Linked DNA regions of Homo sapiens. The protein of the gene in region 1 purifies or fractionates together with the protein of each later gene. This does not show direct contact. Each region holds a gene or a part of one and is shown on either strand. Other genes may lie near its edges.

What was found. The genes of interacting proteins can lie anywhere in the genome.
Region 2: the proteins of P2RX5 (region 1) and TMEM131 purify together in Homo sapiens (affinity purification with mass spectrometry; 2 studies listed by BioGRID and IntAct, with this or other methods). This does not show direct contact.
Region 3: the proteins of P2RX5 (region 1) and TTC17 purify together in Homo sapiens (affinity purification with mass spectrometry; 2 studies listed by BioGRID and IntAct, with this or other methods). This does not show direct contact.
Region 4: the proteins of P2RX5 (region 1) and PDS5B purify together in Homo sapiens (affinity purification with mass spectrometry; 2 studies listed by BioGRID and IntAct, with this or other methods). This does not show direct contact.

Annotation. Positions count from the first base shown.
Region 1 is NC_000017.11:3,679,156-3,682,655, forward strand, and holds part of P2RX5 (P2X purinoceptor 5), read right to left. Parts: intron 2,824-3,500; coding exon 2,741-2,823; intron 630-2,740; coding exon 435-629; intron 1-434.
Region 2 is NC_000002.12:97,810,949-97,814,448, forward strand, and holds part of TMEM131 (transmembrane protein 131 precursor), read right to left. Parts: intron 3,441-3,500; coding exon 3,287-3,440; intron 3,194-3,286; coding exon 3,023-3,193; intron 1,802-3,022; coding exon 1,691-1,801; intron 1,608-1,690; coding exon 1,473-1,607; intron 285-1,472; coding exon 180-284; intron 1-179.
Region 3 is NC_000011.10:43,407,420-43,410,919, reverse strand, and holds part of TTC17 (tetratricopeptide repeat protein 17 isoform 1 precursor), read right to left. Parts: coding exon 3,343-3,500; intron 1-3,342. UniProt on the Homo sapiens protein: Plays a role in primary ciliogenesis by modulating actin polymerization.
Region 4 is NC_000013.11:32,771,452-32,774,951, forward strand, and holds part of PDS5B (sister chromatid cohesion protein PDS5 homolog B), read left to right. Parts: intron 1-1,737; coding exon 1,738-1,873; intron 1,874-3,500. UniProt on the Homo sapiens protein: Regulator of sister chromatid cohesion in mitosis which may stabilize cohesin complex association with chromatin. May couple sister chromatid cohesion during mitosis to DNA replication.

The sequences.
Region 1 (3,500 bases):
TGCCATTCACCGGCTGTGTGACTTGAGCAAATTACCGAGCCTTTCTGTGCCTCAGCTTCCTCATTTGTAAAATGGGGAAGATCGGTGTCTATCTGATTCAGTTGCTTACATGAGTTAACAAATACGGAGAGTACAGAGGGGTTCCAGGCAGAGAGTCAGTGCTGTGGAGCAGCGCGCTGTTATCATCTGAGCGCCGGCATGGCACAGCAGGCACCCATGGCCATCCAGGGTCTCGGGAGCTAAGGGGGACCTTGCGGGGTAAAGCACCAGCCCCTTCCCACAGAGGCTCTCCCAGTTCCTAGATGTCCTGCCTTGTGGCCAGCTCACACCAGAGCAGAGGGGTCCGCTGGAGCTGCCAGGCATGAGAAGCCCCAACTGGGGACCCCTCTCTGCAGGACCCAGCTGTCGGGCTCTCTGCCTAGCAGTGGCCTCACCTGTGGGGCTCCAGGAGCTGTGGGCACACAGATCCGTTCCCCTTCTGACTGCTGCTTCCACGCTTCGCCTCGGGTGGCTCCTGCAGCTCCTGCTGCTCCGGCATCCCCAGCAGCCCTGGCCCAGATGTGAGCTGCTCAGATAGCCCCAGCCCCGATGCCTCGTCCTCGGCCTCCTGGGAACTGTCTTCTAGGCCCCTGGACAAGATACAAGCTGTTCACCTGGGACGGCCCTGCAGGGTGCCTCCCCTCCTAGACGGGCGGAGTGGGCCTTGAAGAATCCCTCGCCCTGCAGGCCGCCACCCTGCTTCCTCCAGCCGGTGTCCTCCACCCTGCTTCCTCCATGCGGCTCCCTCCACCCTGCATCCTCCACCCTGCTCTCTCCACCCTGAGTCCTCCACCCTGCTTCCTCCACGTGGCGTCCTCCACCCTGAGTCCTCCACCCAGCTCCCTCCACCCTACATCCTCCACCCTGCATCCTCCACCTGGCTTCCTCCATCCTACGTCCTCCACCCAGCGTCCTCCACCCTGCATCCTCCACCCTGCATCCTCCACCCTGAGTCCTCCATCCGGTGTCCTCCACCCTGCATCCTCCACCCTGCGTCCTCCACCCTGCATCCTCCACCCTGCATCCTCCACCCTGCGTCCTCCACCCAGCGTCCTCCACCCTGCATCCTCCACCCAGTGTCCTCCACCCTGCATCCTCCACCCAGTGTCCTCCACCCTGCATCCTCCACCCTGCATCCTCCACCCTGCGTCCTCCACCCAGTGTCCTCCACCCTGCGTCCTCCACCCTGCATCCTCCACCCTGCATCCTCCACCCAGCGTCCTCCACCCTGCATCCTCCACCCTGCATCCTCCACCCTGAGTCCTCCACCCAGTGTCCTCCACCCTGCATCCTCCACCCAGTGTCCTCCACCCTGCATCCTCCACCCTGCGTCCTCCACCCAGCGTCCTCCACCCGGCGTCCTCCACCCTGCTTCCTCCACCCGGCTTCCTCTACCCTGCTTCCTCCATCCTGGGTCCTCCACCCTGCAGGCCACCACCCTGCTTCCTCCATCCTGGGTCCTCCACCCTGCAGGCCACCACCCTGCTTCCTCCATCCTGGGTCCTCCACCCTGCATCCTCCACCCTGCATCCTCCACCCTGCGTCCTCCACCCAGCGTCCTCCACCCTGCATCCTCCACCCAGTGTCCTCCACCCTGCATCCTCCACCCTGCATCCTCCACCCTGCATCCTCCACCCAGCGTCCTCCACCCTGCATCCTCCACCCTGAGTCCTCCACCCAGTGTCCTCCACCCTGCATCCTCCACCCAGCGTCCTCCACCCTGCATCCTCCACCCTGCATCCTCCACCCTGCGTCCTCCACCCAGCGTCCTCCACCCTGCATCCTCCACCCAGTGTCCTCCACCCTGCATCCTCCACCCTGCATCCTCCACCCTGCGTCCTCCACCCAGCGTCCTCCACCCTGCATCCTCCACCCAGCGTCCTCCACCCGGCTTCCTCTACCCTGCTTCCTTCAGCAGCACAGTCAGGACTGTGGTTGGGGTTCAGCCTGTGGCCAGGGTCAGGGCGCACGGCTATAACCCAGGGCTGGGGTTCAGGCCATAGCTGGAGTGCAGTAAGGCGAATGACCCAGGCAGACCCTGCACCCACTGTCCCAGGCTGTGGGGGTGCTGAGGGAGTACTAAGGTGTCTGTCCCAATTCCCATTCTGATCCCTGCTTCTCCAGAAGGCCTTCCCCAAAGGCCGAAGCCACAGCCCCTTCCCCTTCCCGCCCTCCCACAGTCATCAGGGTTCCCCACCCACGCTGTGCTCTGCCGCTGTGAACACGCACACCCCACCGAACCCAGGGCCCAGGAAACTCCGGAAACAGCCTCTGCATGGAAGAAAATATCCGCTTTTCTTTCCTTTACTACTCCAGCTTCCCTCAGCCCCGGCGCACCAGGACCACCAAGTCCAAGAATCCCAAAACAGAAGTGCTGCAGACACCACTCGATTGGTAAACCAACTCTCTCATCTCCCAGATAGAGAAACCGAGGCCCGGGGAGGCCTGGGACTTGTCCAGAATCAGGCGGAGCCTGTGAACTCCGTCTCCCGCCCTGTGGCCCACAGCGCCCTCTCCTCCCACTGCTGCCGAGGCCGAATCCGGTTCTGTAGAGCATGTACTCAGAACACTTCTCCTCCCCGGGCCCTCCAGCCCCTGCCTCCCACCCCAGCCATCAATATCACATCAGGGCAAAGGCTCGAAGCCACGGGGGTGCTCCACAGGGCTGCCCTCGGGCCGCCGGCCTGGAAGCGGAACTGACCTCACTTCCTCGTACTTCTTGTCACGGTAAAACTCTCTCTTTTTGATGAGGTAGATGAGTACCAGGTCGCAGAAGAAAGCACCCTGCAAAACAGGGGTTCCTGATTCAGAATCCTAGACCTCTGAGAGCACTGTTCATTTAGGGCACTTTGCCCCTTCCATCCTGCAACAGCCCCTAAAGGTGGCATCACTGTCCCCATTTAACAGATGAGGAAACTGGGCTCAGCAAGGGGCACCCTTGTCCGACACCACAGAGCTGGTCCATGGTGGAGCTCAAGCTGGACTGGAGCTCCCCCGATCCCACAGGCCAGGCACTCCCCGACCCCGCACCACCCGGACCCCATCCAATCGTTCCTTCAACACATTTGCTGGGCACCCAGCACGTGCCAGTGTCTGCACCGAAGTACGGAGAGGATCTGGACAAGAGAGACCTCCTGGGGACTCTCCCTCTGGTGCAGGAGACAGGCGTGTCGATGACGACCCACATAGGACTTCACTCAGCCTGGGGAGGGTCCCTATTCAGTCCTTAAGGACTAAAGAGGAGTTTATACAAGACAAAGAGGTGGAAGGACATTACGGAGGGAGGAACAAGCCTGTCACATCTGGGAAATGCCGCAGGGCCTGTGCGGGAAGAGGGAGATGCGCTTCTGGAGAAGGGGATGGGGACTGGCCTGTTAGGCTTCTTAGAATGTTTCCGAGGCATTGGTCCTCATCCTTTAGGTGAGGCGGAGGCACCACAGCCCGAATTTTGGCATTTAGAA
Region 2 (3,500 bases), on another chromosome or scaffold:
AAACTATGAGCCTATGAACATCAATATTCTATAAACTATTCTCGAAAGCTCAGTTTTTAAGGTATGAAACTGGTAAACTGTAACTCTGAGTAAACTTAATTCTTTGGTTTCATAAAGACAAGAAAGGACTGACTTATTCAGAAAAACCCCACTGCCATGAATCCCCATAAAGTCCTTACCTCATAGTCTGTTGTGATCTGGATGGCTCCATCATGAATCCCCTCTAATTTTTTTGCAGTAAGTTTGACTCTGAAGACTGCAAAATAGCCTGAAGCTAATGTTACCTGTAGATAGTAGAAATGGTATCATTCATTAGCCTTGTTAGTTGAAGTTTCCTATTAAAATGGACATGAAGGGTGTAGCGATAAAATGACTAACAAATCCTAACATATACCAGTATGACACTGAATTACCATATCACTGTGTACAAATATCTCAAAATAGTGTCCATCCCTTGATATTTCTCTACTACACTTGTTCCATGGGCCACTGAAAAAGCTGGTTCCTGAAAGAGGGAGGGGTGTGGTCCTCTTGCTAATAAAGCTCCTCACTCTTTACCCATGGACCTGTATGGCCAAAGGGGCTGGAGCAGAGGGACACAGCCTTCCACCAACCTTTCAGGCACACTGGAGCCACAATTGTATACACAGCTGGCTCTGCTTCAAGCTGTGGATGTCACTCTGTAATGTTAATATTCATATCTTCAGGGCAGCTGAGGTCAGATATAACAAAACACCAGACCTATGGCATTCCACGGAAACGTGTTTGTCAACACTCTCTGTGTATAAGGACACTTGCTTTTCCTTTTGTAAAACTGCCCCAAGAAATTCTATTCTAACCTGCAGATGAGATTATCTGATGCTCCTTCTCACAGATTGTGATTCTAATTCTTTTCCCAGTAGGTATAAACTCCAAGTTCCCCTTTCAGTACTGGTGAGTGCTGAAACTAATAAATTTGTTTTCTCTTGTTTAGCGCTCTCTGACAACCAACTGTAACATGTTTATTAGACAGGTAAAAATATGTGGGCAGACTCACAGTGATCAAACAATGTTTGCCTCACTGATACTGAGGCAGTATCTGGACAGACGTATTATTGCATAATTGAAAATATTTTCTACCAATGTTCAGGGCCATCTCTTTTTCCCAGTAAACTCAATGAACACAAGGTTAGTTTAGTACCCATGGGAATCTCTCCTGTAATGACACTTGTGTTACAAAAAGATAATTAAAAATTTGTGTGTTATAGAACTTTTTATGACAAGGCAGAATTAAACCCCTTTGGGTTTCAGTGCCCTCATCATAAAAATAGGGGGTTGAATTACATTACCTATAAGGTCCTTTTAATAGCAAGTAACCAACACTATTATGAACTGCATAAAAATAATAGTGATACATGTAGCATAGCAATGATCTTCCACTTGCAGTTTAGACATCCATCTTACTTTAAGGAGACAATAGAAAGTTTACTTACCGATGATTGATCTGATAAAGAGGATTTTTCAAACTCTGGCAGGCTTGAAATTATTGTAGTTCTATTGCCTCTTTCCACAGCTACAAGTTCTATTGATAAACCGTCTCCTATGATATGCCAACTTTTTATAGCCAACTTTAAAAAAAGATATGAAAATGATTATCACAACACAAGCATAAAATCCTTAAATGTGATTTAGAATAAAAACAGGTTTTTACCTCAATTGGATTGCTGTTTATAATTGCAAATAAAATATTACTTGCTTCTGTAGCACTCAGTACTCCAAAATCTATGAAACGTTCCTCTATTTTGGGGGGCAATACAAAGTACTGGAAAGATATAAAAGAACCAGATTAAAAAAAAGTCACATTGATCTAACAATATTATGAAGAGAAAGTAACTATATTAAAGATGTATTAAAGTTCCCCCCAAAATTAGCTGGGCATGGTGGTGTGCACCTATAATCCCAGCTACTCGGAAGGCTGAGCTCAGGCAGGAGAATCGCTTGAACCCGCAAGCCAAGATTGCACCACTGCACTCCAGCTTGGGAAACACAGCGAGACTCCATCTAAAAAAAAAAAAAATTACAGTTCTATGCTTTCCTATGCTTTTGTATATATGCATAAAACCACACATTTATACGACATAGTTGAGGGCTTTGTATGACGAAAGTCTTTTGAGTAATCAGAAATGAAAACAGCCATGGCTTCTGCTGAGTTGCTATTCTTCCTCTGAGGGCACATGAAAGAGGCAGGAAGCTAAACTACTAAGAGAGGTTTAGTGGAACCCTAGGGGATCGGGCAAAAAGCATGTGGTCTCAGCAAGCATCACCAATGATCACTGAAACAAAATAACTGAAGCAGGAGCGAGACATTACTGAAGGTCCCTCCAGCTCTAAAATTCTAATCGATGCCAACTATTTAAAGGGCTACATTTCTAGATGTCCTAGCTTTCTTTTTATCTTTCCTAACAGTTTTCTCTCTTATCTAAGCTTCTTTCATTGATCACTCTCAAGATAGCTTTGTTTGGAATTTTTCCCCCTGCTTATTTTCTGTACCAGGAGTACCTTCATTGTTTCCTTCTGTGTCATATATAATCTTCCAACTTTGCGTCTTTACTACCTTATTTTCTTCTTTACTATCTGATTCTCTTCTTTGTCCCGATATTTCTTGGTTTTGATCATCTCTTCCCTACGTATATCCCTCTTCACCTTCCTTGTATTATTCTTTTTCTACCTATCATTTTTCTATTTAGTTCTTTTCTATATTCCCCATTATTACAATAGTTTAAAAGCATATCCAAGAGAAAGCAGAATGTGGAAAAGATCTAAGTAGAGACTGTAACTAGAGAAGTCAACTGTATCACAAGAGAGAGCTGCCAGAAAAGGTAAAAACTAGTTACCTGGAAAGGTAAAAACTGACTAGGAGAATTAGATCAATTTGCAGAGCACAAATAATGGCAAACCGTATGTAACACGACTGCCTAATAAGATCTGAAAACATTAAAGGTGGGCAGGGAGTTTAAATGTTAAAGATGGATAATATACTTACATCTAAAAAGCCTGTGTATACCCGCACGGGTAAATGAAATTTAGAAGCATTGGTAATAAGTAAAATGTTGTTATCAATGTGCATGGATGATGTGGAAGGCATAAAAAGCAGGGTAAAAATGTATCCTGATTCATTAGGAAGAATTAAGACTGGTTTGCTGAAGTTGTGAACCTGAGAAATGACAGAAGAGAAAAAAAACAAAGTGTCAGCATCACCTAGTTGGTAGACCAGGAAAATTAAAAGTATGAGGGCTCCTGGACATACTTTAAACATTGTTTTGGCTTCTTCTGGTAGCAACACATCGTGAATGAGGATCGCAAAACTGAAAGTGTTAGTAAGGTAAATTGGCCTTTCCACAGGATCAGCAGGGCTGTCTCGGATGTGAAATAATGTTGCAGCATGATCAAATCCCAAATAACTATTAAAAAAAACAACAAGAACAAAATAAATCATTTTTATTTCCATGTGTTAATTTAAA
Region 3 (3,500 bases), on another chromosome or scaffold:
TAAAATCTGAGGTATATTTTGAAAACAGAATCAACAAGGTTAGCCAGTGGACTGAATTTTCCCTGAGAACAGGAGAAAGGTATGAAGGAAGCCCCTAAGTTTTTGGTCTGAGCAACTGGAAAGATAGCTTTATTATTTCCTGAAATGAGGAAGACTGGGAAGAATAAATTTGGAACAGCGTTAAGGAGTTTGGTTTTGGCCTTTTGTTCTAGAGCGCCCTTTAGACATCTAAGTGGAAATGTCAAGTAAGCTGTTGAATAAAGGAGTCTGGAGTTCAGGGCAAAGGTGACGGGTAATTCAACAGGAAAAGGGCAGTCTTCTCAAGATATGAAGCTGAAGAACTGGATATCCGTGTAAATATGAACTTTGATCCCTACCTCACACTACAAAGAAAATTTAACTTGAAATGAATCATAGACCTAATTGTAAAGCCTAAAACTATAAAATATCCAGGAGACGTCACAGGAAAAGATCTTTATATATTTGAGAGCCAACTATTCAAAGATTAAGCCATAGAAAACAAAAACAAACAGTTTATTGAGAACACTTGAAATCTAACAATAGAAATCAACATTGAAAAGACTGGCAAACTTAAGGGCAATTTTTAAATGCTAAGATAAAAAGGCAAAGAGAGAAAATATTTTTAACACATGAGAGATGGAGTTAAAGAGTTTATCATACAAAGGGTTTGCACAAAATCTAAAAAACAAAATTCTAAAATGAACAAAATGTGTATACAAACTTTTACTTTAAAAATACAATTACAAGGTTGGGCATAAGGGCTCACACCTGTAATCCCAGCACTTTGGGAGGTCAAGGCGGGCGGATCACTTGAGGTCAGGAGTTTGAGACCAGCCTGGCCAACATGTTTCTATTAAAATACAACCCTGTTTCTACTAAAAGTACAAAAATTAGCCGGGCATGGTGGTATGCACCTGAAATCCCAACTACTCCAGAGTCTGAGGCACGAGAAGAGCTTGAACCTGGGTGGCGAAGCTTGCAGTGAGCTGAGATCATGTCACTGCACTACAGCCTGGGTGACAGAGCAAGATTTTGTCTCAAAAAAAAAAAAGAAAAGAAAAAAGGAAAAAAGAAAAACAAAAACAACCACAAGATAAAACTTTACGTTACAACGGAGAGGTGGTATTTTTAAGCAAGCGAAACTTGTTTTATAAATGTTAATTCAGAGGTAGTATAACACGACTAGAGTATTTGCCCTGTGGCCAATCTCCCTGAGTTCAAAACCAAGCACCAAGCTCTGTGACTTCCCATAAATCCCTTACTCTGTACATTTAACTCTTAAGAGTTTCCTCATCTATCAAAGGGGAAATTCCATCTCACAGGGTTGTTATGAGGATTAAATTAGTTACTACATGTAAGATGCTTAGTATTGTGCCTGGCTCTAGTAAACAATCAAAAAAATTGGCAGTTATTTCAGTTGTTCAATTCTAATAAAGACACAGGTGGAATTAATATTTTTAGACCTTATTCATGGCAATATATACTGGCCCAACCATTTTAGTGGGTTGTTTGGTATTTTGTGCCAGAGCCATCAAAATATTCATTCTCTTATTGACTTAGTAATTCCACTGCTAACAATCTTTAAGGCCTTTGCAGAAAACCATCATTGATAATAGCTAAGTACTGTTAGCAACCTAAATATGCAGCAACAGAAAAATAGGTTGTGGCATATCAATTCATTGGTCCTTTATACAACCATTTAAATTGAGGGCTTTAAAATTAGGTAGGAATAAGTTTTTTAGAGATCACCTGTACAGTAGAGTTGAAACATTATGAAATATTTGTATAGAAGACATGCTTATAAGGAAAAATTTCCAAAAGTTGGGAAGAGGGTGCTGATTAAGGAACATTTTTGGGGCCGGGTGTGGTGGTGCATGCCTGTAATCCCATCACTTTTGGAGGCTGAGATGGGAGGATTGCTTGAGCTCGGGTGTTCAAGACCAGCCTTGGCAACATGGTGAAACCCCATCTCTACAAAAAAATACAAAATTCAGCCATACGCAGTGGTGCATGCCTGTAGTCCCAGCTACTAGGGAGGCTGAGGTGGGTGCACTACTTGAGCCTAGGAGGTGGAGGCTGCAGTGAGCCGTGACCACGCCACTGCACTCCAGCCTGGGCAACAGAGCAAGAACCTGTCTCAAAGAAAAAAAAAAGGTATATTTTTGGGGTACCCACCCTGATCCATTAATTTATCTTTTTATTCTTATTGTAGCACCATGGTATTTAACAACTAAAATTTTAGTATGATTTTAAAATATCAAAAGGTAACTGATCACTAAAGGAGGTCTTTTTTCTTCAGAAGAATACTACCTAAGTCCCTTGGCTGAAAACAGTAAAAAGGGAATCATGAAAAGTTTCAAGGGAATACGGCTGCATTGCGCTTTCCATTGCCCACTTTATCACATCTGTTCCCACTGTACCAGCACCTGGTACACAGTAAGCACTAGATAAATATTTGATGTACTTCTCTGGCAATGTGACCTGTTACATAATATTGAGATTGTAAACTTCTGCTTAAAATCCAGTTGTGAATTTCTGTATTTCAAAAGAAAACAGGCAATATTTTCTTCTCATCCTTAAAAAATCAGTTTTCAGACACCATAAATAAACCTCAACCATTCATGCACATCCCTTCTGAAGGTTTCTTTGAATACAAAACCTATAAACATTTAGACATTAGGTATAAAATCAATTTAATTGTATATTTATTATAACTGAATTTCATGAAACCTAAAATGACAGCAATTATAACATCCATCCTGATATCAGAGATGTTAAAATATGAAAAACCAAAGTTGTATCTTCAAAACCATGAACTACAAAGCACTGATGTAACTCCATAAGCTGCATGTGAGAGGTTTGGGGCATGAAAATCAATGTATCTATTTATTCTTATCAAAACCACCTTTGAACTGTCCTCTGGCTTGAAGGGTATAAATATTTCTATAAATTAAAGTTGTAAAACAGTGTAATATTAAGCAGTGTGCATGCTGTGATGAGTAGGATAAAATACAAACCAGATGTTTCAGACAGACATAAAAAAGCGGCAGTATATTTTTACAGCTTATGTTATTCTTATTTAAATGTAAGTTTCCAAAAAAAAAAAAACTTAACTGTGTAATTATAAATTTCACTCAAAATTTAAAGAACACATCAAAATACAACAAAAGCTTTTTCACACTCTCTTGAAATAATGCAAACGCTACTGTGAAAGACAAAACATGACATTTTTTATGCTTTCCCTAGAAAAATACAAATTGTAATCTAAATTTGAGTTACCCTACATAGTATACGGAACTATGAAATCCCTTAAAACCTCACCTCAGAGCTATTGATGGCCAAAGCTTGAAGTAGCAGCTTAGTGGCATCAAGATGAAGGCCGTAATGAATCAAAAGGTTGGCCAAGTTGACAAGAGGAACATCTTGGTATTGAAGTGGAGCTAAATTCAAAGCCCTCTGAAGACAGGCAATAGCAAAAG
Region 4 (3,500 bases), on another chromosome or scaffold:
AGAGTAGCATGTCTTCTATTAGTCAGAAATTTAACACTTTTTCTGAGAGTAATCCCACCCATACATAATTACATCATGGCTCGACTTTTCAGAGTTGCCAATGTACTGTCATTAAATACTCAATTATCTTAGAGATTTTCCTATTCCTGTGTATTCCACAGGAAGAGGAAAAGTTGCCTGGGTGTCTAGCCAGTACTTCATGCCATCTTCCATGTAATTTTTCTATCAGGTTAAAAGTAAAGGTAAGTACATTTTTGTGGCAGCTTTATAAATGTGTTTGGATTCAACCAAATCACTATTTCTAAACAAAGGATTCTTAAGGAATCCTTTATTTAATAAAATACACATGAATGATGTAACAAGGAAATAACAAACCTCATAATTTTAGTTTGTTTATATTTGGACATCATAAAATTCAGGGTTTAAATGATTATTGTGCTCTCCTAAAATTACACAAGTCCTATGAATGTTCTAAACCAAACAAGTATTTCTTAAAAAAAAAAAAAAATTGATATGGAAGAAGATTCTGTAGTCTGTCTTGGAAGCCTATCTTCCTTTCACTGGGAAGCTCTTTCTAGAGCTAGTATACTAACATATGTTAGGATTTGTTTCTTTTTCTTGTTCTGACCTCAGTGAAATTGAAAAAGATTGTCATTATGTTTCATGTTATTTCTATAGTTTCATTAATCTCGAAAAACCAAACCAAGTAAAAAAATTGTTTGGTTCGAGCGTGAGTTAAAAAAATACATATTTTGGATTGCTTATAGAAGTGATGTTATGTTTCTAATTTTAAAAAATAAAGATTTATCAAGAGGGATCCATTTGATTAGATGGTTCTATTACATATTTTTTGATGCCTCCTGTGTTTCAGAGAGTACTAGGTGCTAGGGACACAAAACAGACGTGGTACTTGTTTTCATGGGCTCGTGGTTCTTGTTTTCCACCATCTAATGGAGTGAGGAAGTTTTTTCTTTAAAAGTAACAATGAGTTGATATCTTGAGAATAGTAGGGGCTAGACAGGCAGAGAACAGGTGGCATGAACACTATATTTGAAGTTTCTGAAGTGAAAAATAACTTGGCAAAATCAGAAAGCTAAAGGAAGGCAAGGGTTTGTTGGATTGTAGTTGTGGGGAGTTGGGGAGCAGAAAGAGATGAGAGTGGACAGGTAGGCAAGGACCATCTACTGTTCCTTGTATACTTTGTTAAGGAGGTTTACAAAATTATTCTCAGCTCAGTAGGGAGCAGTAACATCATCTGTTCTTGTACTTTTAAAAGATAACTTTGTAAAGAGAAGAGGCAAGAGATGGGAATGGTTTGAATTAGGTGGTAGCAATGGAGATGTGGAGAGAAGTGAATGGATTTGAGATCTCCATAAGAATCTATAAGGCCAGACAAAGACAGGTACACTATATTCAAAGCAGAATTCCTTTCTGCTTTGAGCAGCTCAGTAGACATAGATGCCTTTTACTGTGTTAGGAAAGATGAAAGGAAGAGCAGACTTTAGGTTATGGTATGTTCTCAGTCACATTTTTTTGTTGTTACTTGGTAGATAATATGTAACATTCTATGATTAAATGCTGGTTTAGGATTCAGAATATTAAAGAAATGTTCTTGTCTCATAAAGTAACTGAGGGTAAAGATGATATGACGATGAAATACGTGAAACATTTCTTCTAACGAGGTAATCTACTGAAAGATTGGAACGTTCATTGTGTTTTACATGTGTTTTACTCTAGCCGTGTAGGACGCTCCAAACAAGCAGCTACTAAGGAAAATGATTCAAGTGAAGAAGTAGATGTGTTTCAGGGTAGCTCTCCTGTCGATGATATTCCACAGGAAGAAACAGAGGAGGAGGAAGTTTCTACAGTAAATGTATGTGTTCAAAGTTTCTGTGAGTGGTGTGGGATATAAAAAGAGTTAGTAAATGTTTGGTTAGATCATTTAGTACTTGTTTAGTATTTATATGTTTTACTTCATTAGTTCATAGCATCATTTTATCTACCAGGTTGGATAATGGAGAACATCTTTTATGGAAACCCGAAACTAAGCAAATAGGTGTAGCTTAATGAGAATGTAAATGTCAAGTCTGAACTGAATGTACAGCATTCTAATATTGACACTTTAAGCATGTAAGTTGTACCTTGATTTTAGGGCACTGATACCCATTAAGTATACTGTTGTTTATATTTTACAACTCTCCGTTTGGTATTTCTATTTGGGTTTCATAATAGAAATTAGAAGTTAGTTACACAGAATAAAATCAGCCTTTGGAATTGAAGTTTGAGCTGAATGAGAATTCATAAAATTGGTAATACATACTTATTTTGCAAAAGTAGGTATGTGTTACTTCCTGACTTTTTTGTTTTTGAGACAGAGTCTCACTCTGTCACCCAGGCTGGAGTATAGTGGCGCACGATCTGGGCTCAGTGCAACCTCTGCCTCCCAGATTCAAGCAATTCTCCTGCCTCAGCTTCCCAAGTAGCTGAGATTACAGGCCAATGCCACTGTGCCCGACTAGTTTTTGTATTTTTAGTGCAGACAGGGTTTTACCATGTTGGTCAGGCTGGTCTCGAACTCTTGACCTCAAGTGATCTGCCTGCTTTGGCCTCCAAAGTGGTGGGATTACAGGCATCAGCCACTGCACCCGGCCCTTCTTGACTTTTAAAGTAATAAATAAATAACTTTACCAGTTAATACAACTCAGATATTTCTCTTAGGAAAAAACATAATACATTTAAGTAGAAGCTCTTCTCCTATCTTTGTTTGAGAAACCCAAGCTCTATAATCAAGTCTCAGAATTGGTCTCTGCTGTTCTGTCCTGTTTAATGGAATCAGAACTCCTATCTGTACCAGGATTCATATTTGTGAATAAGCGAGTTAAGTACACAGGAAAATATGCATAATTGTGACCTCAAATTAGTTTGGCTTGTTTCTTAAAGGGTTTTGGGGAGGACATCAAAGTAAGTCTGAAGAGTCAGTAACGATTGATGTCTTCATCAGAGAAAAACTACATGTAAATTAAAACCCTCTTTTATATTCCTATTGTTAATATTGACATTTTTTGAACTAAAGTTTTATGCTTTCATTAGTGCTTGTCAGCAAATGATAATATGTTTGAATTTTAGGTTATTTTACTGTATTGATAATTGTTAAGATCCAAACTCAGTAACTGCTTTCCCAGAAAGATAATGTAAGTTCATAAATGTGAAATGTTTTCATTTACCACAGGAAACATAAGTAGAAAGATGATTAATCTGTTTGAGTTATTTTTCTTGCTGTAGACATTGACTTCTGTTCATTTCTCTTTAAAATTATTAGATAGAAAAGTAAAATAATTTTTTTCTTTCACTGTTCTGGGGAAGTCTGTGAGCCTGTAAGGGATCAAATGTTATAGAGGTCTAAATATGTGATGCCAGGGCAGAAAGTAAGGATAAAAAGTTTCAGGGAAAGGAAAGCAAAGAAAATCAGGAACAAATGAGAATAAAGATTAGTTAAAAAT